2 separate regions of the Homo sapiens genome follow, and region 1 is linked to region 2. Evidence: fine-mapped expression QTL. Tissue or cell type: whole blood. Region 2 holds a variant in brackets; the other region holds the start of a gene. All regions are shown on one strand. Distances are from middle to middle. Region 1 holds the start of RPL9 (ribosomal protein L9). Region 2 has its middle 31 kb from the start of LIAS.

Region 1 (16,444 bases), 31 kb before region 2:
AAGAGACGTTCTTCTGTTACAAAGCCTTAGTAAATTAAGGCAGTTTTGATTATATTCTAGGTCCACCTATGTCTGAAGCTAAATTCAGTATCTAACTGCTAATGAACAAGTTTCCAAAATACTGTAAAAATACAATTAGTCAATTTGAGTAAATGCAAATATGATGAGAAATCAATTTGCTATTTGGCCTGGCAAATGGGAACAGTAAAATTCTGCTTTACTCTTCTCTAGTCTCCTTGCCCCAGCTGCACCCACTACCCCAAAGTTGGCAGTTTTGAGGTATGATTTTCAAGGAATTTTTTTAGTATTAACATCTCCCTCTGAGAACTATGTACCTAAGGTCACGCATACAACTAGTCAATTCTGTTTTTATTACTCTAACTATGTAGAAACAGTAAGTCACTTAAAACAATCACTTGGCTGGGTTTTTTCCCCTTTGTGCCACATTGATTCACCCTGACCCAAGAACTCCAGGGAAAATTCTTTAATGTCAACTGGGCAACTCATTAACCTCTCTTTAACATCAAGGGCTTGGGAAAAAAAAAAAAAAGGTTAGCCACAGGAATAACAAAAACCTGGAATTTATCTTTCAGGTTTTGCTTTCTCTTTCTCACTTTGTTTAAAGTATCTCGTACTCACAGTTCACAAATTAACCTTCACTGTCTCTTTCACATTAAGAGCTTATGCTTAAAGCATGCCCCCCTTTTCTAACTTGCTGGTTTACCATAAACTCCCCTAAGTAATAAAATTCCTAACCCAGTACTGAGAGTCCTCCTTCTCTGCCACTTGGGCATTATTTTACTAGTTTTTAAGCCATCATCGCACAAGAATCCAAAAACCCTTAAATTTTTTAACCACTGGCAAATATGTACAGCAAATTAGGTTAAGCATTTAATCTGGCTCATGCTCTATCATACTAAATATTCAGGTTTATCATAAACTCCTTAAAAACCATCAAAGGTCAACCAGAAACTGATAACTCTTGAAAGGAGCAAACAGGTAAGATCTTTGGAGTTTAAGCTTTTCTGAGATGTGTTGTGAAAAATCTAACGTGTTTATCGTATATTCAATGTAACAACCTGGAGAATCACAACTATATTTAAAGAGCCTCTGGAAAATGAGGCCAGTACAGTGTGACTACATGTTTAATTTTCAATGTAATTTATTCCAAATAAACTGGTTCATGCTGACCACTTGTATTCAACTAACAACCTGGTCAATTTTAAGAACTGTTGAATGTGAATGGGTTTGGCATTGTAAATGGGCTCTGCCCCAAGACTGCCTCCCCTGAATCCCTTTCTGCCTAGTTGTGCACCAACTTGGTATGTTACTTCTGGGTATATTTTCTCAAAAAATGTGGCTCAGGTGTGGTGGCTCACACCTGTAACCCCAGCACTTCGGGAGGCCAAGGTGGGCGGATTGCTTGATTCCAGGAGTTTGAGACCAGCTTGGGCAACGTGGCAAAACCCTCTCTACAAAAAACTAGCCAGGCATGGTGGCACGTATTTGTGGTCCCAGCTACACAGAAGGCTGAGGTGGGAGGACTGCTTGAGCCTGGGAGACAGAGGTTGCAGTGAACCAAGATCACGCCACTGCACTCCAACCTGGGTGACAGAGACCCCGTCTCAAAAATATGTGGACACCTACATCTAAAAATTGCAAAAATAGTGCACAAGTGCTTATCCATAGTAGACACAGAAGACAATAATTAAGTTTTCCCTGGAGAACTAGGCTCATTTGTTATACCCAAGTTATTAAAAAAAAAAAATCACTGTTTAGCTACAGTCTCTTAAGTTACCTTATGAAGGTCAGACCCAGCATGCCAGTCCATTTCATGCTCAAAGAAATCTCATTTACTCCCACAGCAGCTACTCCCCATAAGCTGATCCTCTCATGAGCATCTCCACCCCACTAGAATATTGCCACTTGGAAATTTCTCCCACAAGCCTCATACTGTTTTGAAATCCTGTCAATACCTTCCCAAAATCTCTCTCTTCCAGTCCCACTGCTATTACTGAGTTCCTTGGCAATCCAGGAAACAGCTACATGCCATTGTTCTGGTAGCTGGAATACACCAGAGTACAAAATTACCTCCTTGTGAAGGTTACATCCTAGCAGAAAAAAACACATCATCAATACACAACCAATTGTAAATATTAAAATTACAAATGCTATTGACAAAAACAAGTGGAGAAGGGTAACGAGACAGTAGGACAAGCTTAAGGAGCCGGTCTACTATTTTTAATACGGTGGTCAAGGCAGGATTCACTGAATAGACCTGAAGGTAAGTGAAATTAGCCACACAGCTCAGCTGAGAGCATTCCAAAGGGAAAACGACAACTTAAATGCTTAATGACAGAGTGCTTGGTATAGAGGATTAGCCAGGTCAATTCAGCTATAGCGCAGAAGTCAGAAAAATTGAGTTAAAAACGGCTGCAGGTACAATGGGGAGGCTATTTTAAAAAGAAAAAAGGGAAAAAAAACCTGTTGCAGGATTTGAAACAGTGCTATAATCCATTTCAAAATCAGTACCCTGGCTGATGCTGAAAATAGACAGGAGAGGAAGATGACCAGTTGACTGTCACAATAATCCAGGTGAACTTCGCAGGTCTTTGTTTCATTTTCTACATTGTAAAAAATTTGTATCTAATGGACCCATATTTCCCAACCTTTCGAGGATGTGATCTTACTTCACGTTGATCCCATTCATCGCCTACAACCCCATCCGTTATTTCTGAGCAAATCCGAGATTTATGATTTCCTCCAAATTTCTTAAAAACCTAACCAAATAGTCATCAAACAACAAGACTCCTTAATGTATGTTCAATTAGTGTACTTGAATCCAGATCTAAGACGTATAGGGCATGGTGACCCATGCCTGTAGTTCCAGCCCTCTGGGAGGCCAAAGAGGAACACTTAAGGCCAGGAGTTCAAGACCAGCCTGGGAAACATGAGACCCCATCCATACTTTAAAAAAAAAAAAAAAAAGATGTGACGGTGCCTGCCTGTAGTCCTTGCTACTAAGGAGGCTGAAGCAGGTAGGATTATTGCTTGAGTCCAGTAGGTTGAAGTTACAGAGCTATGACTATGGCACTGTATTCCAGCCTGGGCAACTGAGTAAGACATTGTAAGATCCAAGATAACATATATGCCAACTGATCGTGACCTCTGTCCTTATATTTACTTTTTCTGATAAAGTACCTGACCATACCTTACAATGAAGGTACTTAGTACGTTTTCCTGACGCATTTGATCAAGGATGAATGTTAAATTTTGCCTTAGAAATTGCAGTTTCCATCAAATGAGATGTAGAATTCACAAAGGTTTGGGGGTCACCATGTTGACCTAAGTCTAGTTATGGTGGCCTTGTACCATATTTAAAGTATAACACATGGAATTAAGAGATTATGGAAGGGTTATCAATTTTTAAAAACAAGTTCTAGGGTATGGAAGTAAATGGCTGAGGTAAAGGACAAGATTATTGAGACCATGAACCAAACCAACTACACCTTCTAATTCTAACTGATGCTGTATCACTCTGTTCTACTCCTCAGCTGTTTCTCCACCAGTGACTAAGACAACATTTGCCTTACCAAATATTCAAATTCATGCCTCAGCAAATTTAGACACTTTCAGGGTATTCCTAAAGTTCTATATGCAATGATGAATGGCCTCATGTTTGCCTGTCACTGGTACAATATTCCTCTTGCCTAAAATATATCCTTGCTATTCCTTCAAGAACCAGATTAAAGCTCCTTGTTCCACGAGGGAAAAAAACTAGCTAAAAAGGATAACCGGTTTAAGAAGAAGGTCCAAATCAATAGGTCTTTTATTGCATCATTTAAATATCACAAGTAGGTCTTAAGTGTCATCTGGCATCTTCTTTCTGTAGCCAGGTAACTGTAAAAAAAGAAAAAAAATCTGTAAATCCCCATCAATACACTTGCCCAGGAAAGTACTAATCTTTTTTCTGTACTATTCTAAATAATCTAAAACATACCTCAAGACTATGACTTACTGATTCATAGTAAACTATACGTAGTAAAATGCATGCCAATTCCATCTTTTATTCTGTCAAATTTACTGTGTTCCAGAATGCTTAACTCTCCATTTTCTATTACTACAAATTCAGTTTAAGTCTTTTAGTAAATTAAGAGCTTCATTCAACTAGAGCAGTAATAAAACTTAAGACACTGTAAGAACTTACCTCTTAGATCTTATTCATCAGCCTGCTGAACAGTTCCTTTTTCAGAGACATAGATACCATCCAAAAATTTCCTGATATCCTTGTTTTTAACTGTTGTGGCTTGCTGAATCAAAGCCGCTATAGGAGTGAAGATAAAGCAATTAATACATCAGCCTAACCCATCTTAAAAAGAAAGTATTTCATTATGTGCTGTACTTAAAATTTCAGAATGTGACCTTTTTATTTTCACAATTTAAAAAGCTAATCAAATAAAAATTAGCAAAATACTGTATTTTAAACAAGATTTAGACAAAATCTTGTAGGCATAGTTAGACATAGTAAACATACAAACCTGAATTTGAAACAAGCTCAATGTCATTTCCTTCAAGGATTAATTCATCTTTCTGGGCTTGAGATACTGAACAAGCAACACCTAAAAGGGGAGAGGGCATTTGCACAGCATCAAATCTGTGTAAAAAATATTTAAATTGCAGAGGCACTAATTTATTCCATGTAAAACTCCATGCACCAAAAGAACCTTTTCTTAAGATTTTGAGGCCGGGCACAGTGGCTCACGCCTGTAATCTCAGCACTTTGGGAGGCCGAGGCGGGCGGATCATGAGGTCAGGAGATCGAAACCATCCTGGCTAACACTGTGAAACCCATCTCTAGTAAAAATACAAAAAATTAGCTGGGTGTGGTGGTACGTGCCTATACTCCCAGCTACTCAGGAGGCTGAGGCAGGAGAATCGCTTGAAGCCAGGAGGCAGGGGTTTATTTTTAACATAAGGGTTTTCATTAAATGTTGCTGACCATAGCTAGTATCAGAGTATTTCTGGACAGCCATTATTTTGATACTAAGAATCTCCCTTCTTCCCACCCCTCCCCACCCCAATGGAATCAAAATGCATCAAGAGGCCGAGCCAGGTATGTTTTAAGAGGCCAAGGGGGAAGAACTGCTTGAGCCTGCAAGTTCAAGACCAGCCTGGACAACATAGCAAGACCCTGCCTCTACAAAAAACTTAAAAATTAGCTGGGGCCAGGCACCATAGCATTCCTTGAAATCAGCCTGGGCAACGTGGCGAAACAGTCTCTACAAAAAATCAAAAATCAGCTGGATGTGGTGGCAGGCACCTGCAGTGCCAGCTAGTGGGGAGGCTGAGGTGGGAGAAACACCTGAGCACGAAGGTGGAGGATGCAATGAGCTGAGATCACGCCACCGTACTCCAGCCTGGGCAACAGAGCAAGACCCTGCCTCAAATAAAAAGCACTAAGCTTTAAATTTTTTTTAAAGCTACTGTGTTTACTATGTATTACGCATGCATTGTTGTTTTTCAACTTTAACTCATTTAATCAAAGATGTTTGCAATTTTAAGCTGCAGAGAGATGACATGCCCAAGGTGGACAGTGAGAGCTGAAATTTACGCTAGGCTATTAACCACTACTCATGTAGTTTTCTCTTTAGATTTTAAAGGTTCTTACCACGAAGAAATAAATGGAGTGATGGATGTGTTAATTAGCCTGATTTAGTCATTCCACAGAATATGCATGTGTTGAAACATCACATTGTGCTCCATAAATACACACCATTATATACACCTTTTGTAAATTTAAAGTCTTTTTAAAAGATTTCATTTGCCAAGTTAAATACAACCACCACTGCAAGCTACTCCAATGTATCAACTTTCTGAAATTGTAATCGACATAATGATATAAACCCTTAAGTAGCACCAACAGTTTAAGTGTAATCAAGAGATAATTCTAAAACAAATCTGGTTTTACTCAGCACAAACACAAAACAACAGCCAACTAAAGTATGGAAGTTGGGAGTGGAAAAGGAGGAAAAAAATATGAAGGAAAAATTTCTTAATTCTGTCTGAGGGTATGCACATACCTGGTCTCATCCGAACCCTGCGGATATATTTTTCACCCAAGAAATTTCGGATTTCAACAAGAGACCCATTCTCCTGGATAACAACGTTGATGGGGAAGTGAGCATACACAGACCTCATCTTGTAACGGAAGCCCTATGTTAAATAAATAAGCAAGCTATTAGCAATGCTGAGGAATATTTTTAATAGTTTTAAAATTTTCTAAGATGCTTATACTTATTTTAAAACGTAACACTCACTGCCAAGATTTTCTAATAACTGTCACCTGAACCAAGCCTTATAAACATTGTTCTGTCTATTCAGTGGACTGTAAAGCTCCTTGCGGAGGCTTTATTTCACTAGCTCTTATGCCCTCAATGAACAATGCTGCCTTCTTTTAATGAGAACCCCAAAGCCCTGATCTTAGACATTAGACTAACATTTACTGAGTTACTAAGGTACAGCACATGGCAGGAATTGAGACCACCAAGCCAAAGGCAGGCCCCCTGCCTTCAAGGAACTTAAGGCTAAGAGCAAGGGTAGATGGGGGAATCTTAACAGATTTATAATAGATGTACAGGGTGCCATTATCAGGTGCATTCTAGAAGGTATAATGCAAAGAAAACCATTTCAGCATGAACTTTTTATCTTGAGGGGAGAGACGGTGGGTTGGAAAGAATAATGACATACATTATGGCAGCAGACAGAAAACTCAGAAACTACATCTTTTTCTATCCCAACAAGGGGTCCTGATGGTGAGATGTGACTACCAACTAGTACTGCAACTGTAGATTTCCTATCTTAAAGAATTCGGAAGGTATGAAAATTCATCATTAGCCTACTTTTTAAAAGTTGTACCCATCTAGCCATGCATGGTGGCTCATGCCTGCAATCCCAGTACTATGGGAGGCCAAGGTGGGAGGATCACTTGAGCTCAGCCTGGACAAAATAGCGAGACCCCAGCCTTGATTAAAAAAAAAAAAAACCCAACAACAGAAAAAAACAAACATGTTGTACCCATCTGGTCTTTGCTCTCAGCTCTATCGCTTAAAGACCCACAGATGCCTATTTTTGCCAAGTTCTTGCGTATTACACCAAATAAAATACATGACCCATTCTCTGAAAGAGACACTTACGCTGTATAAAGCACAGGTTTGAGAAACCTCCCTTTCCAAAACAAGGAAGTCTGATACATCTGCTTACCAGTGTAACACCCTTGATCATGTTCTGTACATGACTACAAATAGTCCGAACGGTAGCCAGTTCCTTTCTGTTACCCCACCATTTGTCAACCCGGAGCTGTAACAGAACAAAAAATGTATTCTTTCCAGAAATATGCAGGCTTAAAAGACAACAGACCACTTACCGAATTACTTTAAGATTCTAGAATTAACCCTTATCAAAGCACATGGTTTTCAACTGGAAAAATCCAACCACCTATAAAACCTCCCAACAGTTAAGCTTTGTAGAAGTTGCAACAAACTTCCCTTCTGGAAAATTAAATCATCAGGTTTAAATGACCTACTGCCGGTTCCTGTGATTTTTACAAAGCAATCACTAGGAAAATAAACCAAACTTCTAACACCATTAAGACGTGTCACTGATGACCACTATTACATTTGAGCTTTATATAATTGGCTGTGTTCAGAATCTGGTTTTTCAATTTCACTGAACAGGCTGGTATTCTGGACAGCAACATTTAAAGCTGAAGCACTGAACCTTAATTCGAAAATTGTTAAAGCAACCAAATGTGATGCTGTTATAAACCACCTTCCAACGAGCAACTGAATTATCAGAAGAAAAACCCTCACCCTCTTTTTTTTCTTTCCAAGAAGGCTGAGTTCTACATTGATGTGATTGAAGTCCCTCCGCAGGGTTCCTCTGGGGCCCTTCACGATAACTGTGCGTCCCTTCAGAGTAATGTCGACTAGAAGAGAGAACACACTCGTCAGGCCACACAACGCTTGGAACGTGCAGTAAAGATGTAAGTAAAAGACATCAAGTCTCATACCATTTTCTGGAATGTCGACAGTCTGATTGCTGAGAATAGTCTTCATTCTGAAACACAAACACTGGGGGTGAGGCCGACGCAAGGCCCGTTTTTCCACCAAACTACGCCGCACAGAGCTCCACTCCTACTGGAGACTGCCAGGCGGAAGTTCCAGACAAGATGTCGGAGGACGGGAGACCGACAGCGGGCCCCAGTGTGTCCCAGCCTGGAAGGAGCAGCCCCAAAGCGAGAATTACGAGGCCCAGCAGTCGAACTCCCACTCAGCCCAACCCTGGAAGTCCTATGCGGGCGGTGCCATCCCGGCAAGACTGAGGGGCGGGAATAGGCCAAAAAGCCCACAACAGGATTCGCATCTGGCGCCGCCAGGCTCATATGGCGCTTGCCGAGCTGGGGGACAAACAGGACAAGGTTCCGAGAGTGGGAGCCGCGCCGCAGCCTTTCCCAGAGCAGATGGTTTCAGATTCCCAGTACCCCCACGAGCACAGAAACATCCTTACCTCGCAGTAGACGCAGCAAAGAAAGAACGTCTGTCGTCATTACGTACTTGTATCGCGTAAGGGGCCTGCGTATTGCGTCATGAGTGCGCGACGCACGTAAGGCTAAAGCAGCCAATCGTGGAGCAGCTTGGCTGCTTGTCATAAATGGAGCGACGTAATTTCGACCTGTCCTTTCCCGGGAGTTAGCGATCCCTCAACCCCTGCACTGCGCTAGTCCTAAAGAGGAAATGTCTCTACGCTGCGGGGATGCAGCCCGCACCCTGGGGCCCCGGGTGAGCGGCGGGGCGAACGGGTTTGGGCGTGGGGTGGGGGGATCCTATCCCTTCAGAGCGCCCATGCCCAATAATAAAGGCCAGTGCATTTACTGAACATTTACTACTAGCCAACGGCAGTTTTAAACGTTTTTCGTGTAATCTCATGTAATTATCCCGCCAGCCCCATGATATAGAGTCTCTGGCATCAGTTTGTTTGCAAGTCTCTCTGGGCCAGCACCGAGGACTTATTTTCTGCTTAGAGTGGTTTGTACCCTATATTTATGGAGCACTGCAGTGAGCACCCCACATAGCTATTCTGTCTTGGACTCTTACTGTGTGTGAGACACCACTCTAGCCGCAGAGAACACAAACCTGTCCGCTAGGCTTCAGCGGCAGACATTGAGAAGTGCAGTAGCAATCGTGCAACACCCTAACAGGCACTCTTTGAGTTGTCGAAGGTTCTTTTGAGATACATGTGCAGACTCGTGGATTTTGTAGTGTTTTGGCTATCTCATACACGTTTGTGTTCAGATGTAAAAGCCGAATACCATGATTTCTTATGTTCTTGACTGCCACGTTCAAACACAGAAACAATGTAACCTAGAAAGTAAAAACGTTCATCCTGGCCAACATGGTGAAACCCCGCCTCTATTAAAAATACAAAAATTAGCTGAGCGTGGTGGCGTGCGCCTGTAGTCCCAGCTACTCGCCAGGCTGAGGCAGGAGAATCGCTTGAACCCGCGAGGCGGAGGTTGCAGTGAGCCGAGATCGCGCAACTGCACTCCAACCTGGGCGACAGAGCGAGACTCCATCTCAAAAAAAAAAAAAGAAAAAGAAAGTAAAAACGTTAGGCTTGGTTTTAACCTTCCAGTTGTCTGAAACTAATTGGGCATTATTAACCTACGTTTCAACAATTATTCAAAGCTCGAGAGATTTATTGCACACTTCACTTTAAACGCCCCTGATTCAAGTCAGGACCAGAACAGTTTTAAACTGTGGCACCTTCTTCAGTTATTGCAGTTCAATCTTGTTGAAAGACAAACATCTAGTTCCTGGTAGGTGGAGTACATGAAAGTGTGATATATGTTAGTTCCAGAGATTTTCGGGCCGGGTGCGGTGGCTTACGCCTGTAATCCCAGCACTTTGGGAGGCCGAGGCAGGTGGATCACCTGAGGTCAGGAGATCGAGACCATCCTGGCTAACATGGTGAAACCCTGTCTCTACTAAAAATACAAAAAAATTAGCCGGGCGTGGTGGCGGGCGCCTGTAGTCCCAGCTACTCAGGAGGCTGAGGCAGGAGAATGGCGTGAACCCGGGAGGCGGAGCTTGCGGTGAGCCAAGATTGCGCCACTGCACTCCAGCCTGGGCAACAGAGCAAGACTCCGTCTCAAAAAAAAAAAAAAAAAAACAGATTTCCAAATCTATTCTAAACTCAGTAGTAAACAGTCAACTCTTACTCTCTTTTAGGTTTGGTTCCTTCAGTCATCTTTTATATTCTAATGCCCTAGAATACTAGAGCTCCTAGTTTGACATAATTTCTGAATCACTTTTTTGGCTTTACCCTTCCGTTTAGGTGTTATGATGGGTTAAAACTAAATTATTACGGACTCCACTAAATAAACGTCATAATTAACTCTTTCTTTAGGTATTTGGGAGATATTTTTGCAGCCCAGTCAGACCGTTAAGCTCCTTGCCAGATAAAAAAAAGGAACTCCTACAGAATGGACCAGACCTTCAAGATTTTGTATCTGGTGATCTTGCAGACAGGAGCACCTGGGATGAATATAAAGGAAACCTAAAACGCCAGAAAGGAGAAAGGTAATTGAAAATTTGAGATAATTTTAACGTCCCGTTCCTTTATTGTGCATTATTTTCAGATATAACCAAGCCCTAGAATCTGTTTTTAATATCAGACTTGTTAAATTTAGCTAAAAATCATTAGAAAGATGTGATAACAGAACTAGATAGAACAAGTAAGCAGATGAAATTTTTGGAATCTTTCTCTTTTCTCTTGCCCTTACTATGTTACACTGCCATCTCCCCATTTTCTACCCAGCATCCAACTTCTTCAGAGTAAAGATTACTGCTTTGCTACTAGTCTGTTAGATCTGGGTTAGTAGCTGTTGATGATCTAACTTGTGCTTCTCCTAGTCAATTTACATGTGACCTATGGATACCTTGCCTTAATTTAAAAGAATGATGGAATTTTATGTAGAAGGTAGATTGAGTTGAAAGATAACTTAATCCTGCTCCTTCTATATCACAAGTGGATGGAAGTCATGGAGAACCAAGGATACACAGTCTCCAGTCCAAATTTTAGATCTTTTTTCCATTGAGTAACCACTATAAAATCTAGAATGTAGAGCAGACAGTGCACAGTTGTGATCTTTCCTCAGTCTAAACAAGTAGAGTACTTTTTGGCAGTATCATTCATGAGGGATGAGATATTTGAAAACTTGCTCATTCTCTTATTAGAATAGTGTAACTCTGCCTTTGCAAAAAAGGTAGACGTGAGTATAGCGCCCTGTTACACTCCATTATTGGTGTTTTCTTTTTGTTTGTTTGTTCTTGAGACAGTCTTGCTCTGTCACCCAGGTTGGAGTGCAGTGGCACAATCTTGGCTCACTGCAAGCTCCGCCTCCTGGGTTCAAGGGATTCTTCTGCCTAAGCCTCCCAAGTAGCTGGGACTACAGGCGCCTGCCACCACGCCCGGCTAATTTTTGTATTTTTAGTAGAGACAGGGCTTCACCATATTGGCCAAACTAGTCTCGAACTCCTGACCTTGTGATCCGCCCACCTCGGCCTCCCAAAGTGCTGGGATTACAGGCATGAGCCACCACATCCGGCCATTATTGGTGTTTTCTAAAGTGGTTTGAGCAAGGCTAAATTTGATTCTGTGTTCTTACTCCTATGACAGAAATTATAAGAGTTATTCTAAGGTTATAGAAAAAATTATTAACTAGGAATTGTAATAGAAGAAATTAACTTCAAAGCTGTGTAATTATTTGGCAGCATATTTGTTAATAGATAGTTATGTTTGGCTTTCCTTAGGTTAAGACTACCTCCATGGCTAAAGACAGAGATTCCCATGGGGAAAAATTACAATAAACTGAAAAATACTTTGCGGAATTTAAATCTCCATACAGTAAGTTGTCAAAGTGTAAACTATCCCTCTTCACCAAAAGCCATGTTTCTACGTTTATATAACTTAAAAATTATTAATAAATATATAAATAATAGCAAAGAAAGTAAATATGTTAAGTGATACATTACTACCAGGAATGGAAATATATTTAGAATCATTTTTCCGGCAAACAAAGAGATTTTTTGCCCTACGAGTTTGGAAACAAGGCTTTGTTTGTTTTATATTGCAAATTAGATATATGATTTGTTGGAAAGAATATAAAATTAAATATGAAGGTATGTCACATACGCAATGCCATATATAAACCATACTCCTTTACCTTTAACTCTTCAGTATATAATCTTTCAGACTTTTTTATTTGCACATATGAAGTATATACATTCGTAAAGTTTTTAATTTAAAAATTGGATTTTGGCCAGGTGCGGTGGCTCACACCTATAATTCCAGTACTTCGGAAGGCCGAGGTGGGAGGATCACCTGAGGTCAGGAGTTCAAGACCAGCCTGGCCAACATGGTGAAACCCCGTCTCTAATAAAATACAAAAAAAATTAGCTGGGCGTGGTGGCGTGAGCCTGTAGTCCCAGCTACTTGGAAGTCTGAGGCTGGAGAATCACTTGAGCTTGGGAGGTGGAGATTGCAGTGAGCTGAGATGGCACCACTGCACTCCAGCCTGGACGACAGTGAGACTCCATCTTAAAAAATAAAAATTCAAGTCTGTCCATTCTTACATAATTATGTAAGGGAGTACACCTCTATAGGACATGCTCACTACACTCTAATCTTAATATAGAGTTGGGCAGTTTAACAGCCTTTTTTTTTTTTTTTTGAAGACAGGGCATTGCTCTGTTGTCTATGCTGGAGTGCTGTGGTACAATTGCCTTGACCTCCCAGGCTCAAGTGATCCTCTCTCCTCAGCCTTCTGAGTAGCTGGGAGTATAGGTGCACATTACCACGCCTGACTAACTTTGATTTTTTGTAGAGGCAGGATTTCACTATGTTGCCCAGACTGGTTCCAGACTCCTGGGCTCAAGCAATCCTCCTGCCTCAGCTTCCCAAAGTGCTGGAATTACAGGCATGAGCCAGCGCACTTGGTCTTAACAGCATTTTTGAATAGTGAATGTCTTCAAAAATATGTTGTAAACAATGAGAAGTTTAAAATGTCTAATCACAGTCACCAACTGTTTAGTTGGTGGATATTGTCAACCTAATGGTGTTCCATTTCCTTTTGCATACAGGTATGTGAGGAAGCTCGATGTCCCAATATTGGAGAGTGTTGGGGAGGTGGAGAATATGCCACCGCCACAGCCACGATCATGGTAGGGCCAGCCTCAACCTCTATGGCTTTAGTCTAGAAACTGAAAGGGACTATTTTGTGTCTTCCTCCTAAAAATGTGCATTATGAATCTCTGGTCAGATTTTTCATTACATTTGCATTTATGAAAAATATTAAGAAAAAACCTGATGGAATAATCCAACCTGTTGTAATCTCACCCTTCTCTGAATAAATCTATTATTGGTTCTTTCATTTATGTGATAGTTAATCACGTGCTGCCTTGAGATACCTCTCCTATCAATGTTTGGAAACATTATTCATGATTGCTTAGCTTTTTATGTGTTTTCTGTTTAACATATTCAACAAGAAGGAGCTGTGCTTTCTGTTTTTACATCCATAGAGACCTGTACATTGATCTGTCATATATTTTATGTCTTTTAAAATCATCTTTTTTTATTATTGAATAGATATAAAAGTATCTTCATAGGCCGGGTGCAGTGGCTCATGCCTGTAAGCTCAGCATTTTGGGAGGCCAAGGCAGGCAGATCATTTGAACCCAGGAGTTCAAGACCAGCTGGGCAACATGGTAAAACCTTGTCCATACAAAAAAAAAGTTTTTAAAAATTAGCTGGGCATGGTGGCACTTGCCTGTATACCCAACTTCTGAGGAGGCTGAGGTGGGAGGATCACTTGAGCCCAACAGGTTGAGGCTGCAGTAAGACATGATCATGCCACTGCGTCCCAGCCTAGACTACAGAGCAAGACCCTGTTTCAAAAAAAAAAAAAAAAAGTATCTTATAAACTGTGTAAGTTATAAAGAATAACACAACAGACACCCTCATACCTCCAGTTTGAGATTAAAACGTTAGCATTATCTTTGAATACCCCTCTGTACCCCCTAAACTGTATATTAGAATCCCATTTTTCAGTTGTGTTTCTATTTTGTTTTAAGAAATGGGGGTCTCACTCTGTCACCCAGGCTGGAGTGCAGTGGCACAGTCATAGCTCACTGCAGCCTCGAACTCCTAGGCTCAAGTAATCCTCCTATCTCAGCCTCCCTAAATACCTGAGGCTACAGGTACATGCCACTACACTAGCTAATTTTTAGAGACAGGGTCTCACCGTGTTGCCCATGCTGGTCTCAGACTCTTAACAATCCTCTCACCTCAGCTTCCAGAGTAGCTGGGATTACAGGAGCAAGCCACTGCACCCTGCTTTGTTTTTAAATTTAAATTTTGCGTCCTTTCCTGATCCCATCCCCTTTCCCCTGAACACTATTCTTATTGCTGAGTTTATTATTTCCCTTTTTAGTTTTATCACATATATTTATGTTCCTTGACTATCATTTAGTTTTGAATGTTTCAAATTTCTTATAAACAGAACCAAACTGTATGCATTCTTTGCAACTTGCTTTATTCTCTCAACATTATGTCCTTAAGGGTCATCTGTCTATTTCATTTAAATTGTAACATTTCTATTCTAGTTGATGGGTGACACATGTACAAGAGGTTGCAGATTTTGTTCTGTTAAGACTGCAAGAAATCCTCCTCCACTGGATGCCAGTGAGCCCTACAATACTGCAAAGGCAATTGCAGAATGGGGTCTGGATTATGTTGTCCTGACATCTGTGGATCGAGATGGTTAGTGTGTCATCATGGCCTCTACCAGAAACTGGCTCTAAATGATGACATCATCCTGAGCAGTGGATTCTTTTGTTTCTAGATATGCCTGATGGGGGAGCTGAACACATTGCAAAGACCGTATCATATTTAAAGGAAAGGTACTTATTTTTGCATTTGTGTAATTTAAGGACCTTTTTGGACCCATATGAGTTAAGTTTAAGTTCATTACCTTGAAACAGGGATTATTCACTTTTTGAGGAGTTTCATAGTTTTCTGATAATTCACTGGAAATTATGTACACATTTCTTTGGAAAAAGCATATTTGTATGTACAGATACATATTTGCAGAGAATTTTAGGGGCTCAGTGACATGAACTTACCCATAGACCTTTAGCCCATAGAATCCCTCCCTCATATTAGAGCATTAGTCTAAACTTTGAATAATTTTCTTTAAAAAGTATAAACCTGGTCTTCTTAGTAATGATTTTTTTTTTTTTTTGAGATGGAGTCTCGCTCTTTTGCCCAGGCTAGAGTGCATGGCACCATCTCACTGCAACCTCTGCCTCCCAGTTCAAGCATTTATCCTGCCTCAGCCTCCCGAGTAGCTGGGATTAGAGGCCCACGCCACCAAGCTCAGCTAATTTTTGTACTTTTAGTAGAGATAGGGTTTGACCATGTTGGCCAGGATGGTCTCAAACTCCTGACCTCAATTGATCCACCCACCTGAGCCTACCAAAGTGCGGGATTACAGGCCTGAGCCATCACGCCCGGCCTGTTTTTTTGGGTTTGTTTTGTTTTTTCTTTTAAGAGACAGTCTTGCTTTGTCATCTAGGCTGGAGTGCAGCGGCCTGATGATCATAGCTCACTGCAGCCTCAAACTTCTGGGCTCAAGCAATCCTTCTGCCTCAGCCTCCCAAGTAGCTGGGACTACAGGTACACTACCACGCTTGGCTAATGTTTTTACATTTTTTTTTAGAGACGGAATCTTGCTATGTTCCCCAGGCTGGTCTCAAACTCCTGACCTCAACCAATACTCCTGCCTCGCCCTCCCAAAGTGCTGAGATTATTCTAATTTTCTACAGCTCAGTACTAGTTTGGCACCTAAGCGCACTTAGTAAATTTTTTAAATGATTCCCTAGTATTTTCTATTTTCTATTTACTATAGTTCATTTTTGAAAAATCTGTTTGCAATCCACTAGGTTTATTTTACAAGCTTCAGTGGGTCTCAGCTTTCAGTTTAAAAAAGCAATAGAACCAAGCACAGTGGTTCACGCCTGTAGTTCTAGCACTTTGGGAGGCCAAAGCAGGAAGATTGCTTGAGGACAGGCGTTCAAGACCAGCCTGGGCAACATAGGGAGATGCTGTCTCTACAAAAAATAAATTAAAAAAAAAAAATAGCTGGATGTGGTAGCATGTGCCCATAGTCCTACCTGCTTGGGAGGCTGAGGCAGAAGGATTGCGTGAGCCCAGGAGTTTAAAGTTACAGTGAGCTATGATGCACTGGGCAACAGAGCAAGACCCTGTTTTTATTTAAAAAAAAAAAATTATAGGATATGTTCTTTGAATATCTCTTATATTCATGATA
Region 2 (16,444 bases):
AGGACCGGGCCTGATTTGAGCCTCCTTTTTGAAGATGATTTGGCCGAGTGTGGACCACCGGAAAGTTCTAAAAGTTGCTGGTGACATTTCTTGCCAATTCTCTAACACTGTCTAGGGAAGAGTTCCTAGTCTGTTGTGTTCAAACAGAGTCAACAAAAATTTTTAATTTTTTGTTACAAAAGGGTGAAGTTCAATTTTAAAAATAAATAATAAATATAATAAAAATCTCATGGAACTTCAATGTAAAATAATTAAAATGGCATTTTATTAGCAGTGTATGTTAAAGTTTCAGATTTGTAACATTTACTCTGTAAATAAAAATAGGGAATAAGTAAAATGAAGCAATTTTGATACATATGCAAAATTGGGATTTATGGATAACAGTTGCTGTCTTCAGCCTCAAGAGTCTACTTATTTGTTTTGGTTGCACAGTATTGAGAACAATTCTAATATAGCTAAATAATAGTAAATTTCAGTTAATAGCATAGCTTAAAAAGAAAAAAATAGTAAATAATTTTTAAAAATGGTAAAACACCTCATCTTGGAATGTCTGGATACTTTCCAGTTAAATTTAATACAGAAACTTGAAAGAGGAATAGCAGGAGATGTTTTTGTTTTGTTTTGTTTTGTTTTGTTTTTGAGACAGAGTCTCGCTCTGTCGCCCAGGCTGGAGTGCAGTCATGCGATGTGGGCTCACTGCAACCTCCACCTCAAGTGATTCTCGTGCCTCTGCCTCCTGAATAGCTGGGATTACAGGCACGCACCACCATGCCCAGCTAATTTTTGTGTTTTTAGTAGAGACAGAGTTTCACCATGTTGCCCAGGCTGGTCTGGAACTCCAGGACTCAAGTGATTCACTCATCTCGGCGACTCAAAGTGCTGGTATTACAGGCACGCGCCAACACTCCCAGCTAATTTTTTATATTTTTAGTAGAGATGGGGTTTCACCATGTAGGCCAGGCTGGTCTCAAACTCCTGACCTGAAGTGATCCGCCAGCTTTGGCCTCCCAAAGTGCTGAGATTACAGGCGCGAGCCACTGCGCCCAGCTGGGGCTGCTATTTTTGAATCTGCTTTTAAAGAGCAGGTGGTACCTTTCCCTTCCTCTTTTCCTTTTTCCTTGCTGGCTAGAATGAAAACATGATGCTTAGAGTGGGAGCAGCCATCCTGGACATGAGATGGGAGACTTGTGTCAAGGACAGCAGAGCGACCAGATGAGGAAGGCTTGGGCCTTTTCCAGCCCTCGACCACCTACCTGGACTTTTGTGTGAGAGAGAAATACATTACTATTCTGCTTAACACACTATAATATTGGGTCCCTCTTGGAGCATCCAAGTTTATATGCTAATGCAATTTATAAATTATGTTTATTCTAATGCCCGTAAAATAAATGCCTATTAAAATTAAGAAAGATATATATGCACCTAAAATAATCTCCCATGTTACTAGCATTATCTAGTGAGTAGTCTCTTACATGTCTGTATTCAAGAAAAAGGAAGGGAAGAAGGGAGCAAGCGGTCACTGTATCCAACTTATCCTCTGCTTATACATATTATTTTGCAAGGCAAACACTAATGATATATTTCTTCCTGAGTTTTTGGTCTAAAACTTGAACACACTCCCAGTATGTGGTGATGATAACAGCTAGTTGGGGACCACATGCTATGGAAAGCTAGGATAAGTCTCTAAAAAGTGACTAACAAAGTTCATGCCTTTTTTTTTTTTTTGAGCTAGAATCTCGCTCTGTCACCCAGGCTAGAGGGCAGTGGTGCGATCTCAGCTCACTGCAAGCTCCGCCTCCTGGGTTCACACCATTCTCCTGCCTCAGCCTCCCAAGTAGCTGGGACTACAGGTGCCCGCCACCATTCCTGGCTTATTTTTTTGTGTTTTTAGTAGAGATGGGGTTTCACTGTGTTAGCCAGGATGGTCTTGATCTCCTGACCTCATGATCTGCCCATCTTGGCCTCCCAACATTCTGAGATTACAGGCATGAGCCACAGTGCCTGGCCTTTTTTTTTTTTTTTTTTTTGAGATGGGATCTCACTCTGTTGCCCAGGCTGGAGTGCAGTGGCACAATCTTGGCTCACTGCAGCCTCAACCTCCCTGGCTCAAGTGATCCTCCCACCGCAGCCCCCCAAATAGCTGGGACTACAGGTCCCCACCACCACACCTGCCTATTTTTTTTTTTTTGTCATTTTGGCAGAGATGGGGTCTTGCCATGTTGCCCAGGTGGGTCTCAAACTCCTGAGCTCAAGCAATTCACCCACTGTGGCCTCCCAAACTGCTCAGATTATAGGCATGAGCTACTGCACCTGGCCTTTTTTTGTTGTTTTTTTTAAATAATGTGATAGCTGCAATTGTGCCACTGCACTCCAGCCTGGGCAAGTGAGACTCTATCTCAAAAAAGCACAAAAAATCGGCTGAGTGTGGTAGCTCATGCCTGTAATCCCAGCACTTTGGGAGGCTGAGGCAGGTGTATCACCTGAGGTTAGGACTTTGAGACCAGCCTGGCCAACATGGTGAAATCCCATCTCTACTAAAAATACAAAAATTAGCCAAGCACGGTGGCGGGCACCTGTAATCACAGTTACTCGGGAAGCTGAGGCAGGAGAATTGCTGGAACCAGGAGGCGGGGGTTGTAGTGAGCCGAGATTGCACCATTGCACTCCAGCCTGGGCAACAGGAGTGTGAAGCTCTGTCAAAAACACACACACACACACACACACACACACACACACAATAAATAAATAAAATTTTTAAGTTAAAAAAAAGTGACTACAAAAATAAAAAACACCTCAATGTTTCCTTTTACCATTTTAACCTTTTTTTTGAGACAGGATCTTGCTGCATCACCCAGGCTGGAGTGCAGTGGCACAAATCGGCTCATTGCAACCTTGACCTCCCAAGCTCAAGTGATCCTCCCACCTCAGCCTCCTGAGTAGCTGGGACTACAGACACATGCTACCACTCCTCACTAATTTTTTTTCTATTATTTGTAGAGATCTCACTATGTTGCCCAGACTGGTCTTGAACTCCTGGGCTCAAGTGATCCTCCCTTCTCGACCTCCCATAGTGAGGCAGAAATTAGAGAAAGAAGAAATAAAAACTAAAAGAGAAAGACACGTTTTCCTGTATTAGGTTGTCTCATCCCAAAAAGCAGTAACAGACAGAGCCCAGGTGCAGGCAAGGTCCTGATAACACTATCTAAGAAGTCAGAACCCAAAAGGAATGTGCTCTGGAGGCTCTCCCAGCACTCCCCAACATAAGGATAAGAAAAACAAAATTCCTCTTTTAGCCCTTTACCACCTCCCCATAAATATTTTGCAAGTTTTAGAAGTTCCTGTTTCTCCTTCAATGCAACTGCAAGGTCACAAGCTATGCTAGAGATTACGAGACCTGTCACTGTTTCATTAACTGTCTTTATTCTGCTTCTGTAAGCTTTCTTATAAAAATTGAGCCCTGTCTTTGTTCTGGCCTCAATTTTTTGGATATGAATCCACTGAGCCAGCATACACCTTAATAAAAATCCTCCTGTAACACCCATTTGGTCTCTTTGGTCCTCTGATTCCTACAACATTTTGGTGAGCCAGCCGGGAGAGGAGATGACAGGTTTGCTGTCTCCTTTGCCTGTGGGGCTGGAGCCCCAGACTGGCGGGATACCTGTGACCCCAGGTGTGCCATCAGGAGAACTTCAACCCGGAGGGGAGATCAGCTCTCCTGCGACCCAGTGTCCCTTCGCTGACAGTGCAACGGAACCTAAGGGGTATAGGACGATTCCAGGGTCAGTGCACTTCAGGACCACGGTAAGGTATTGGGGCCCAAGGCAGGACCTGTCCCATAAGGAGGGAAGGGGAGCCTGATCACCTTCCAGGGTGCAACTAGTAGTCCGACACAGGATGAGAGAATGGCTCGTAAATGTTGGGGAAACTTACACCCTAACCAACCCAGGACGCAAGAGTGGCAGGGAAGCAATTGGTCATGTATTTAGGGTAGTAACTGGGGTCGGAGGACAGCCGGGACACCTGGACCAATTCCCCTATATCTACTCATGGCCGCACTCAGGTTATGCAAATGCCTCTCAGGTAAAAAAGAGGACCCCCCTCTATTATAATGAACAAGGTCAAATCCAGGGAAGGGAATGAACCTTCATTTACCAGCCTTTTTCAACCACTGATCTCCTAAACTGGAAGCACCATACCCCTTCCTGCACAGAAAAACCTCAGGCCTTTATAGATCTGGTGCAGTCCATCTTCCTAACACACAATCCAACTTGGCCAGATGTCAAACAGCTCCTCCTGATGCTGTTTAATACTGAGGAGCACCGGAGGATAACTCAGGCAGCCCTCCACTGGCTTGAAGCAAATGTACCAGCAGGCACAATGAACGCTCAGGCATATGCTCAAGGCCACCTCCCAGAAGCAGACCCACACGAGGACCCAAATGATGTAACCCAGTTTCAGCACCTGCAGAGGTACCAAGAGGCAATCCTGCAAAGGCTGAGAAATGGTGGGAAAAAGGCAATCAACATACGGAAAATCTCAGAGATGCTCCAGGGAGCAGATGAAAGCCCTAGCCAGTTTTATGAAAGACTGTATGAGGCATTCCGGCTTTGTACTCCGTTTGACCCTGAAGCAGCTGAAAATCAGCACATGGTGAACACAGCATTTGTAGGACAAGCCCAGGGTGACATCAAACAGAAGCTGCAGAAATTAGAAGGGTTTACAGGCACGAATGCCACCCAGCTTATAGAGGTGGCCACTGAGGTGTATGTTAACCGTGACCAAGAGGCAAAGAAGGAAGCAGAACAGAGGCTTGAGAAAAGGGCCGATCTGTTAGCGGCAGCCCTCGTAGAAAGGGAAACTAGTATTCTAAGAGGATGTGGACGTGGACATGGATGTGGAAGAGGTCAAGTTAGGCAGAGATCTGAGAGCCGGCCGAGGCTAGAGAGAGATCAATGTACATGATGCAAAAAGAAGGGACACTGGAAGGATGAGTGTCCAGAAGGTAATGAGGAGAGTAGTCAGGGCCATGGTATGAAGAGACCATCTGCCAAGGGCTGCCGCACCCTGGGGGAACTAGATACTGATCTAATCAGGCTGGCAGGGGCTGAAGGATATGAAGACTGGGACAGACTGGGCTCCTTCTCTTTAGGCCCCCAGGAACCAATAGTCACATTAGAAGTTGCGGGCCAGCTAATGGACTTTATGGTAGACACTGGGGCTGAACACTCAGTAGTGACCTGACCTATAGGGCCACTAATCACGAACTATACAACTATTGTAGGAGCCACTAGAGTCTCAGAGAAAAGGCCTGTCAGTCAAGGAGGTGTGTTATAGGAGGACGAGAGGTCCAACATGAATTCCTATACCTCCCAAATTGTCCAGTTCCTTTGCTGGGAAGAGACCTACTCCAAAAACTCCAAGTACAGATTGCTTTTGGGCCACAAGGAAGTATGACTTTGAGCCTAACTGAGCTGAAGGCCATGATGTTAACCCTTACTGTCCCACAGACTGAGGACTGGAGACTATATGCAAAAAAGACTCCAGAACCAGGAGTAAATGAAATGTATCGGTTACTTACTAAAATTCCTGGAGTATAGGCTGAAGATAACTCACCAGGGCTGGCTGTAAATCAGGCACTGGTAGTAGTAGGGTCAGAACCAGGAGGCCCCCTTCATTGCTGTGGAGATATAGTAGATAAGGTGTTCTCAAGCCAGAGAGATTTTACAGACCAACCCCTCAGGGCCCCAGATGTTGAATACTTTACAGATAGAAGCAGTTTTGTACTGGAAGGGATCTGACAAGCCGGGTATGCAGTAGTAACATTAAACTCAGCAGCAGAGGTACAGTCTCTGCCCACCGGAACATCAGCCCAAAAGGCAGAACTAATAGCCCTGACAAGAGCCCTTTTGCTAGCAAAAGACAAAAAAAGTCAATGTCTGGCCAGTCACGGTGGCTCACGCCTGTAATCCCAGCACTTTGGGAGGCTGAGGCGGGCGGATCACGAGGTCAGGAGATCGAGACCATCCTGGCTAACACAGTGAAACCCCGTCTCTACTAAAAATACAAAAACTTAGCTGGGTGTTGTGGCGGGCGCCTGTAGTCCCAGCTACTCGGGAGGCTGAGGCAGGAGAATGGTGTGAACCTGGGAGGCGGAGGTTGCAGTGAGCCGAGATGGCGCCACTGCACTCCAGCCTGGGTGACACAGCGAGCCCCGTCTAAAAAAAAAAAAAATAGTCAATGTCTACATGGATTATAAGTATGCCTTTGCTACATTACATGTTCATGGAGCTATATATAAAGAAAGAAGACTTTTAACTGTAGGGGGCAAAGAAAGTACAAAGAAGAAATTCTACAGCTCTTAAATGCTATATGGGCTGCTCCAAAGAAAGTAGCCGTTATGCATTGCAAAGGGCACCAAAAGGCAGGAACACTAGAGGCCAAAGGAAACAGAAAAGCAGACAAGGAGGCAAAACGGTCAGCAATGACTACCCCGCACTGTAAAGAGGAGATCCTAGCTTTGCCTCTCCTCCCAGAGCCTCCCCTGCCAGAGGTCCCAAATTATTCTCCAAATGAAACGGGCCTAATTTGCCCAAGAAGCCAGAAATTACATTGAAGGAGGATGGTGGAAATTCTCAGATGGGAGGCTAGCCATTCCTGAAATGGTAGCCCCTAAGTTTGTAAAAACAATTCCATCAAATAACTCATATTTTTTAAAAATGGCATTAGAGACACTACTTAGACTCCATTTCTGTGTGCCACGACTCACTGCCATTGCCCGAGCCGTTTGTGAACAATGTCTAACTTGTGTTCAGAACAACCCTCTGCAGGGGCCTACCCGGCCCCCAGGAATTCAAGAAATAGAGGCCACACCTTGTGAAAACTTGCTTCTGGACTTTACCGAGCTGCCCCAAGCAGGAGGCTATCAGTACATGTTGGTGTTCATCTGCACCTTCTCAGGGTAGGTTGAGGCTTTCCCCACCCGGACAGAAGAGGCGCAGGAAGTAACTAAAGTACCGATAAGAGACATTATTCCCAGATTTAGACTGCTTCTAACTCTAGTGTCAGACAATGGACTGGCATTTGTAGCTGAAATAGTTCAAGATCTAACACGGCTGTTAAAAATAAAATGGAAATTACACAAGGCCTACCAGTCACAAAGCTCAGGAAAAGTGGAGTGCATGAACTGGATGGACACTCAAGCAGCTACTGAAGAAATATTGCCAGGAGACTTATCTGAGATTAGATCAAGTCTTGCCCATGGTCCTCCTCTGAGTCAGGCGCACCCCCACTAAACAAACTGAGTATTCGCCCTGTGAGATTTTGTTTAGCCGGCCATCCCTAATCATAGGTCAAGTTAGAGGTGATCTCCGTGAGCTAGGAAAACTAACTTTGAGAAAGCAAATGCAGGCTTAGGGATAGCCATGTAAACAGTTCATAGCTGGGTACATGAAAGAATACCTGTTAAGTCTAACAGACCCAGCACACCGATTTAAACCTGGGGACTTTCTTTAGGTTAAAAAATTGGAATCCAACCACTTTGGGACCCATAAGAGATAGGCCCCATACTGTAATCTTGTCCACTCCCACTGCTGTTAAAGTTGCGAGAATCGTGCCTAAGATCCACCACAGTCTGCTGAAACTGGCGGCCCAAGACCGGTAGATCAGCCACCAGGACCCAGACCACCCGACCCGACTCAGCCTGCGACAAAACTAAGCTGCCAGTAGAGACAGCAGACCTGCTCTAGTCACTCCAGAAGCTGACTAGTCTATGCACCGGCTGAAGCTTGAAGAATCATCATCAGGGAAGTAAATGTAGCCAGAGATCTTAAGCCCAATAACTTTCCGTATAATATTAATTGTTTTGCTGGCCGGGCGCGGTGGCTCATGCCTGTAATCCCAGCACTTTGGGAGGCTGAGGCGGGCGGATCAAGACGTCAGGAGATCGAGACCATCCTAGCTAACATGGTGAAACCCCATCTCTACTAAAAATACAAACAATTAGCCGGGTGTGGTGGCGGGCGCCTGTAATCCCAGCTACTCTGGAGGCTGAGACAGGAGAATGGTGTGAACCTGGGAGGTGGAGCTTGCAGTGAGCCGAGATCGCGCCACTGCACTCCAGCCTGGGCGAGACAGTGAGACTCCGTCTCAGAAAAAAGAGAAAGACCCATAGAGGAATCCCTCACTGCATGCATACCACATGGTTAAGAAACACAATAGATAAGACTTTATTGTACTATACGTATTATGAGTGAACAGGAAGCCATCTGGGGACTTGCATGCACAACCAGACAACCTATTCAGTCTGTGACCCAAGAGATGGCCGGCCTTCTATGTGCTATAATCCCAAGCTCATACCTGAAACCCAAACCTGAAAACCAAAAGAGTCCCCAGACTCCCTCTTCAGAGGTTGGTTTTCGTCTTTTGGTGGATTTAAAACATGAACAGAAGTGGTGCTGGCTACGTTAAGTGGTTGCTTAATACTCCCTTGCCTCTTACCCCTCCTTGTCAGAAGCATTCAATCGACTTAGTAGACAAAACAACCACCACTCGACTAATGGCTCTAAGTACCAGCCATTGCCAACTGAAGAAAATTATGCTGCCATGAAGAATTAAATAATAGTGATGCTTTCTATTAAACTTCATTTATAAAAAGCATCAAAGGGGGGAATGAGGCAGAAATTAGAGAAAGAAGAAATAAAAACTAAAAGAGAAAAGCAAGTTTTCCTGTATTAGGCTGTCTCATCCCAAAAAGCAGTAACAGACACAGCCCAGGCCAAGACAAGGTCCCGATAACACTATGTAAGAAGTCAGGACCTAGTAGTGCTAGAATTATAGTCATGAACCACCATGCCCAGCCCACTTTAACCATGTTGAAGTGTACGATTCAGTGGCATTAAGTACATTCCCAATGTTATGTAACCATCAGTGTCTCTATTTTGACAAGTGAGTGAAGCCCAAGCTCAGTGTAGAGTTCAAGGCCTTCCACAATTTGCCCTTGGTCTAACCTTCCAGTCTTCTCCAGCTATTCCTCCTCCTACTCCCTTCAACTCCAGAAAAAAAGACAGCTTGCTTTCCCTAAAAGCAGCCTGAATCTTCCTGCTTCCATCTTTTTCTTCCCATTGCTTCTGCCATGGACCTGCCAATTCAAACCCACCCTTCCCCTACTAAGATCATGTCTCTTTATTAAGATCCACCTCAAATGCCACCGGGAAGGCTTCCTGTTTTCCTCAGCTGGAGTAATCTTTACCTCTGTGTCCACACAGCATTTTTTAAAATCACTTATGGCTATTTTCTTGGTTGGGCCAGTTATTTGTGTACCTGCCTCTCTTAAGATCTCTCTCATTCATCTGTGCCCTCTGTTAGCATCTCACAGTATCTGCATTATAGTAGGTGCACAGACACCTAATTTGAAATATTATTCTTTTTTGAGATGGAGTTTTGCTCTTGTCCAGGCTGGAGTGCAGTGGCACGATCTTGGCTCACTGTAACCTCCACCTCCCGGGTTCAAGCGATTCTCTTGCCTCAGCCTCCCAAGAAGCTGGGATTACAGGCACATGCCACCACGCCTGGCTAATTTTTGTATTTTTAATAGAGACATGGTTTCACCATGTAGGCCAGGATGGTCTCGAACTCCTGACCTCAGGTCATCCACCCATCTCAGCCTCCCAAAGTGCTGGGATTACAGGCATGAGCCACTGCGCCCGGCCCTAATTTGACATATTCTAAGTAGAGTTACTTAAAGGTGAGTACAAATGAGCTTACTTTACACATTACAATTAGACCTTACCTTCACCAGCTGAGTTGTCTTACTGAACCCTCCTCCATGTCCCCTATCCCATACCTCCTGTAGAACCTCAGACCCTTTCTGGGTGTCCCCAGGAGGTTGGAGGCCATGTGTTCACTTCCATTTCAGCTGCTGTTCAAGCAATTTTCCTTTAGCAACTTTCTGATTACTTACTTATTTATTTATTTTTTGAGATAGAGTCTTGCTCTGTTGCCCAGGCTGGAGTGCAGTGGCGTGATCTCAGCTCACTGCAACCTCTGCCTCCCAGTTCAAAC[G/A]ATTCTCCTGCCTCAGCCTCCCTGAGTAACTGGGATTGCAAGTGCCTGCCACCACCCCCAGCTAATTTTTTTTTTTTTTTTGAAATGGAGTCTTGCTTTGTTGCCCAGGCTGGAGTGCAATGGCGCAATCTCACTTCAACCTCCGCCTCCCTGGTTCAAGCCATTCTCCTGCCTCAGCCTCCTGAGTATCTGGGATTACAAGCACCTGCCACCATGCCCAGCTAATTTTTGTATATTTAGTAGAGACAGGTTTTTACCCTGTTGGCCCAGCTGGTCTCAAACTCCTGACCTCAGGTGATCCTCCCATCTTGGCCTCCCAAAGTGCTGGGATTACAGGCGTGAGCTACCGCACCTGGCCAATTTTTGTATTTTTTTAATAGAGACAGGGTTTCACCATATTGGCCAGGCTGGTCTGGAACTCCTGACATCTAGTGATCCTCCAGCCTCAGACTTCCATACTACTGAGATTACAGGTGTGACCACCGCACCCAGTGCAACCTTCTGATTCTTTCCTTGAGATGCTATTTCATTATTCTGTCTAAAGCCATTGGTGCTTGTTCTTCTCTTTTCTTCTTCTTCTTTTTTTTTTTTTTCTGAGACAGTCTCACTCTGTTGCCCAGGCTGGAGTGCAAGGGTGCGATCTTGGCTCACTGCAGCCTCTGCGTCCTGGGTTCAAGTGATTCTCCCTCCTCAGCCTCCCAAGTAGCTGGGATTACAGGCGCCCGCCACCATGCCCAGCTAATTTTTGTTTTTGCTTTTGTTTCAAGATTGAGTTTCGCACTTGCTGCCCAGGCTGGAGTGCAATGGCGCAATATCGGCTCACTGCAACCTCTGCCTCCCGAGTTCAAGTGATTTTCCTGCCTCAGCCTCCCAAGTAGCTGGGATTACAGGTGCCCACTACTATGCCCAGATAATTTTTGTATTTTTAGTAGAGATGGGATTTCACCATGTAGGCCAGGCTGTTCTCGAACTCCCGACCTCAGGTGATCCCCCTGCCTCGGCCTCCCAAAGTGCTGGGATTATAGGCGTGAGCCACTGTGACTGGCCGTTCTTCTTAATAATGATGATAATACAATACCTCTAAAAGTAGGGTATTTTCAGCTTCAAATAAGAAATGTCCTATTCAATCGTGTCATTAAGGAGGACATTTATGTCACCAAACAGGAAGTAGTCTTCAAGGTTCATTGATTCAGGGACTCAACAAAGTAATCGAGGATCTAGGTTTTTCCTTCTATTATCTCTGCCATCTTTGGTGTTGGCTTCACCCCAGTCTGGTAGGATGGTGGCTGTGGCTGTCACAACCAAATACCTGTTATCCAGGGATCATATCCAGCCACAACATCCAGAAGGAGAAGAGAGGGCAACTTTCCTTGTAGCTGTTTCAGGAATGTGTCCCAGGAGCCTTACTAACAAACTACCCCTCAATTCTCAATCGCCAGCATTGGTCACAAGGTTGTTTCTGAAGCAATCATTGGCAAGAAAAATCATTGGCAAGGGAAATTTGTTAAACAAAAGTAAGACGGACCATCCTTGGATCTGAAGGTGAGGTAAGCAGGTGGGGATGAACATCTGAACACTGGGGCTCTGTTAGGAAGGAAGAAAGGGGAATGGATCCTCTGGATGGGCAACCAACAAAGTCCCCCTAACATTTCTGGAGTGTTTCCTGTGTACCACGCCCTGTGCCAAGTGTTTTACACTCTTATCTAATGTAATCCTCACAAACAGCCTTCTGAAGTGTACTGTATTATCCTTGCTTTATATATGAAGAAATTGACTTAAGAAAGTTGACTTATCTGGGCCAAGGTCCCATTTCTACTAAGTGGTAAAAGCAAGATTCAAACTTGATCAAAAACTGGAAGCTACCATTGTTATAATAATTGATTCAGACAGGAATCATTAGTAGATGCTAAAACTAGTGGATGAAAGTTTAAAGGAGTAACAATCTTTTTGTTTGTTTGTTTTGTTTTGTTTTGTTTTTGAGATAGAGTCTCGCTCTGTCACCCAGGCTGGAGTGCAGTGGCACAATCTCTGCTCACTGCAGCCTCAGCCCCCGGGTTCAAGCAATTCTCTTGCCTCAGCCTCCTGAGTAGCTGTGATTACAGGTGCCAGCCACCACGCCCAGCTAATTTTTGTATTTGTAGTAGAGATGGGGTTTCACCATGTTGGCCAGGCTGATCTCGAACTCTCCTGACCTCAGGTGATCCACCCACCTTGGCCTCCCAAAGTGCTGGGATTACAGGCATGAGCCACGGCTCCTGGCCTGTTTTGTTTTTTAGACACAGTTTCACTCTGTCGCCCAGGCTGGAGTACAGTGGTGAGATCTCAGCTCACTGCAACCTCCACCTCAAACAATCCTCCCATCTCAGCCTCCCAAATAGTTGGGACCACAGGCATGCACCACCACACCTGGCTAATTTTTGTATTTTTGGTAGAGATGGGGTTTTGCCAGATTGCTTAAGCAATCTTCCTGCCTTGACTTCCCAAAGTGCTGGGATTACAGGTGTTAGCCACTGCACCTGCCCTATTTCCTTATTTTTTGGGAAATAAAACTCCAATAGCCAACCTCCAAGATGGCTCCCAGTGATTATCACCTCCTGATATCCATGTCTCTTCAGACAGTGAATAGAGCTATCTGGTTAAACAATAGGATATTATAGAAATGATGGGGTATGATTTCTGAGGCTAGATAATAAAAGACATTGGAGGTTCTGTCTTGTCCTCTATTGGTTTTTTCACTCTTGAAGATGCCAACTTGCTATGCTGTGTCATGAGGATATTCAAGCAGTGCTATGAGGAGATCCAGTTGGCAAAGAACTGAGGCCTCCTGTCAACCGCCAGCACTAACTTGATAGTCATATGAGCAAGCCATCTTGGAAGACAATCTTCCAGCCCCAGTCAAGCCTTTTGATGACCAAAGCCCTGGTTGACATTTTGATTACAACCAGACTTTGACCCAGAACCATTTGGCTAAACTGTTCCTGAATTCCTGACCCACAGAAACTGAGATAACCCTGAAGTATTTAGGGGAAAAGGGAATCATGTCTCCAACTTACTCTCTTTTTTTTTTTTTTTTTTTTTTTTTATTGAGACAGAGTCTTGCTCTGTCACCCAGGCTAGAATGCAGTGGCACAATCTCAGCTCACTGCAACCTCTGCCTCCCGGGTTTGAATGATTCTCCTGCCTCAGTTTCCCAAGTAGCTGGGACTACAGGTGCGCACAACCATGCCCGGCTAATTTTTTGTATTTTTAGTAAAGATGAGGTTTTACCATGTTGTCCAGGTTGGTCTCAAACTCCTGACCTTAGCCTCCTAAAGTGCTGGGATTACAGGGATGAGCCACCGCACCTGGCCTTGCAACTTAATCTCAAATCATTCAGGAAAAAAATTTATATAAATATAAATTTTATGTGTGATGTATACAGGAAGGATAAAACAAAGCAAATATAATATTAATATTTAGTGAATAAGAAGGGTATACAGCATTTTTGTACCATTCTTTCAACTTTTCTGTAAATCTAAAATTATGTCAGAATTTAGGGTTTTCTTTTTTTAAAAACTAGCAACCTTTGATCTAGATCTACCCTTCACAGATATTTTGGTGTGTGTAGTGTAAAAATTTGTTTTTAAACATCGTGCCAACACTTATAAATTGAGAGATTTTATATAAAAATCCAGATTTTTACAAAAATTAGTCGGGCATGGTGGTGGGTGCCTGTAATCTCAGCTACTCAGGAGGCTGAAGCAGGAGAATAGCTTGAACCTGCGAGGTGAAGGTTGCAGTGAGCCAAGATTGCACCACTGCACTCCAGCCTGGGCAACAGAGATTCCGTCTCAAAAAACAAAAAACACCACACCACCAAATCCAGATTTTTAGCTTTTTCTTGAGAAATAGGAAGATAAGGCACCAGTGACAAGTACTGCATAACAAAGTATTGGCTTAAGTCTGCATGACAAGTATTGGCCTGATGCCTGGTTAATTCTTTGCATTTGAGAAGAATGACTTTTACCTGGGCACCTTTATGTATCCAGAGAAGCAGAATGACTAATATTAAAAGCTGGAGAGAAAAGTCACATAGTCTGTCCTGAATTCTGGTTCTGCCACTTATTAAGGTGTGACCCTGAGCAAGCTGCTAAATCTTCCGAGCCTTCTGCCTGTAGTCTGAATCACAGGATCAGAACTTACCTCAAAAGACTTAAATGAGTCCTAGAATAACATGGGGAAGTAAAAAATGAAATGAAATAAAGACTTATGTGAGGAACAGATGAGAAAATGCACCTAAAGGACTTTGCATAGTGCCTGTCCAAAATGTTCAGTGTTAATTACTGTCCTTCTAGTGATTCCAGAGCCTACACGTGGTTCTGGTGCAGTGGGACCAGCTTGTTATGGTGCTAACAGGAGTGCTCATTGCCTGCCAGTCACTGTGCCAAGAAGATCTTTGTGTAAACATTCATCTCATGTAATCTTTATAACAATTCTTCGAGTTGGAGATGGATTATCTGTTTTACAGATGGGAAAAATAAGGCTTTCAGGTAGCTTAGCCAAGAAGTCTTAAGTGGAATTGTAGGAGAGAAAATTGTAGGAGAGAGATTTTGTTTATCCTTTTGTATCTATGTGAATGTCTTTTTACCATGTCCATATATTATTTTCAATTTTTTTTTTTTTTTTTTTTGAGAAGGAGTTTCACTCTTGTTGCCCAGGTCGGAGTGCAATGGCATGATCTCGGCTCACCGTAATCTCCACCTCCCGGGTTCAAGCGATTCTCCTGTCTCAGCCCCCTGAGTAGCTGGGATTACAGGCATGCACCACTACACCCGGCTAATTTTGTATTTATAGTAGAGACGAGGTTTCTCCATGTTGGTCAGGCTGGTCTCGAACTCTTGACCTCAGGTGATCCACCCACCTCGGCCTCCCAAAGTGCTGGGATTACAGGCGTGAGCCACAGCGCCCGGCCTATTATTTTCAATTTTAAGTACAGTTAGTAATCTTACCAATATTCCTCTGCCCTACCAAAAATATATTAGCTAATAAAAAATTGAAACTTTTCCTGGTGGTAGGGATCAGGTATAAAAATTTAAATATATATATTTTTAAAAACTGAAAGTTTGTATGATTAAAAAAAACAACAATTGTCTTTAACTGGTTGAGGAGAGAAAAAAAGACTAACCACCTTCTTTCAACTTTTCACATGAAAGTCTCAAATTGCTGTTAAGTTACATGCCTAATTACTGAGTTTTTCCTCCCATTTCAAACAGCAAGTTTATCTGGCTCTATGAGCCCTCTTTTGCCCATTTTCCTCCATTTACCAGTAACTTTTTTCTTTTTTTTTTGAGACAGGGTCTCACTCTGTCATCCAGACTAGAGTGCAGTGGTACAATCTCGGCTCACTGCAGCCTTGACATCCTGGGCTCAAGTGATCTTCCCACCTCAGCCTCCCAGTTAGCTTGGACTACTGGCATGCACCACCACTCATGGCTAATTTTTTGTATTTTTTTAGAGACGAGGTTTCGCCATGTTGCCCAGGCTGGTCTTGAACTCCTGAGCTCAAGCATCCACCCACCTTGACCTCTCAAAGTGCCGGGATTACAGGCATGAGCCACCACACCCGGCCAGTAATTATATCTTACAATAATTGTTTACTTATCAGTTCCAGGCATTGAAACATCTTGCAATTTAAAACAAGTACCTATTTCTTTCTTTTCTTTTCTTTTCTTTTTTTTCTGAGACAGTTTCGCTCTTGTTGCCCAGGCTGGAGTGCAATGGCGCCATCTTGGCTCACTGCAACCTCTGCTCCCAGGTTCAAGTGATTCTCCTGCCTCAGCCTCCTGAGTAGCTGGGATTACAGGCGCGTGCCACTACGCCTGGCTAGTTTTTTTGTATTTTTAGTAGAGACGGGGTTTCACCATGTTGGCCAGGCTGGTCTCGAACTCCTAACCTCAGGTGATCCCCCACCTCAGCCTCCCAAAGTACAAGCATGAGCCACTGCACCCGGCACAAGTACCTATTTCTTTTTTTCTTCTTTTTGGAGCTCTTTCAAAGGATTTATTTGCTACAGAATTGCTTCAGTCCACCAATGAGATGAACTCAGGACTTCTTTGTTCAAAAGGATTTTGCTTATTGCTGTGTTTTTACAAATTCGGCAACATCCAAATAGCAATTCTTAGGCTGGGCACAGTGGCTTGAACCCCAGGAGGCAGAGGTTGCAGTGAGCCGAGATGGTGCCACTGCACTCCAGCCTGGCCAATAAAACAAGACTCTGTCTCAAAAAAAAAGAACAACAACAACAACAAAAGCAATTTTTTGCCAGCATTTGGCATATCTAGACAAGAGTAGAAAAAGTTTGAATCTATAGCATTAGATGTCTAAAAATAGAAAAAAAAACCATTTA

What was found. PIP is the estimated chance that this variant, and not a neighbour inherited with it, causes the effect.
Region 1: it holds the start of RPL9, and the variant in region 2 is fine-mapped to the expression of RPL9 in whole blood (INTERVAL, PIP 0.92).

What each region holds. Positions count from the first base shown.
Region 1 is chr4:39,450,326-39,466,769 of GRCh38, forward strand. It overlaps RPL9 (ribosomal protein L9), which reads right to left and starts at 8,597. Exons shown (of 8, transcript NM_000661.5): 1 at 8,566-8,597; 2 at 8,069-8,115; 3 at 7,869-7,984; 4 at 7,261-7,356; 5 at 6,081-6,213; 6 at 4,539-4,619; 7 at 4,208-4,324; 8 at 3,799-3,900. The coding sequence starts at 8,114. The coding sequence ends at 4,218. It overlaps LIAS (lipoic acid synthetase), which reads left to right and starts at 8,731. Exons shown (of 11, transcript NM_006859.4): 1 at 8,731-8,837; 2 at 10,465-10,637; 3 at 11,871-11,964; 4 at 13,200-13,280; 5 at 14,721-14,877; 6 at 14,960-15,017. The coding sequence starts at 8,793. It overlaps KLB (klotho beta), which reads left to right. Exons shown (of 5, transcript NM_175737.4): 5 at 1-1,208. RefSeq lists enhancers at 7,598-8,348, 8,544-8,838, 9,209-9,258 and a silencer at 8,779-8,828.
Region 2 is chr4:39,481,569-39,498,012 of GRCh38, forward strand. It overlaps the pseudogene WDR5CP. Among named protein-coding and RNA genes, the nearest start is that of LIAS, 31 kb to the left of the region's middle. The variant G/A (reference allele first, on the strand shown) is at 10,060.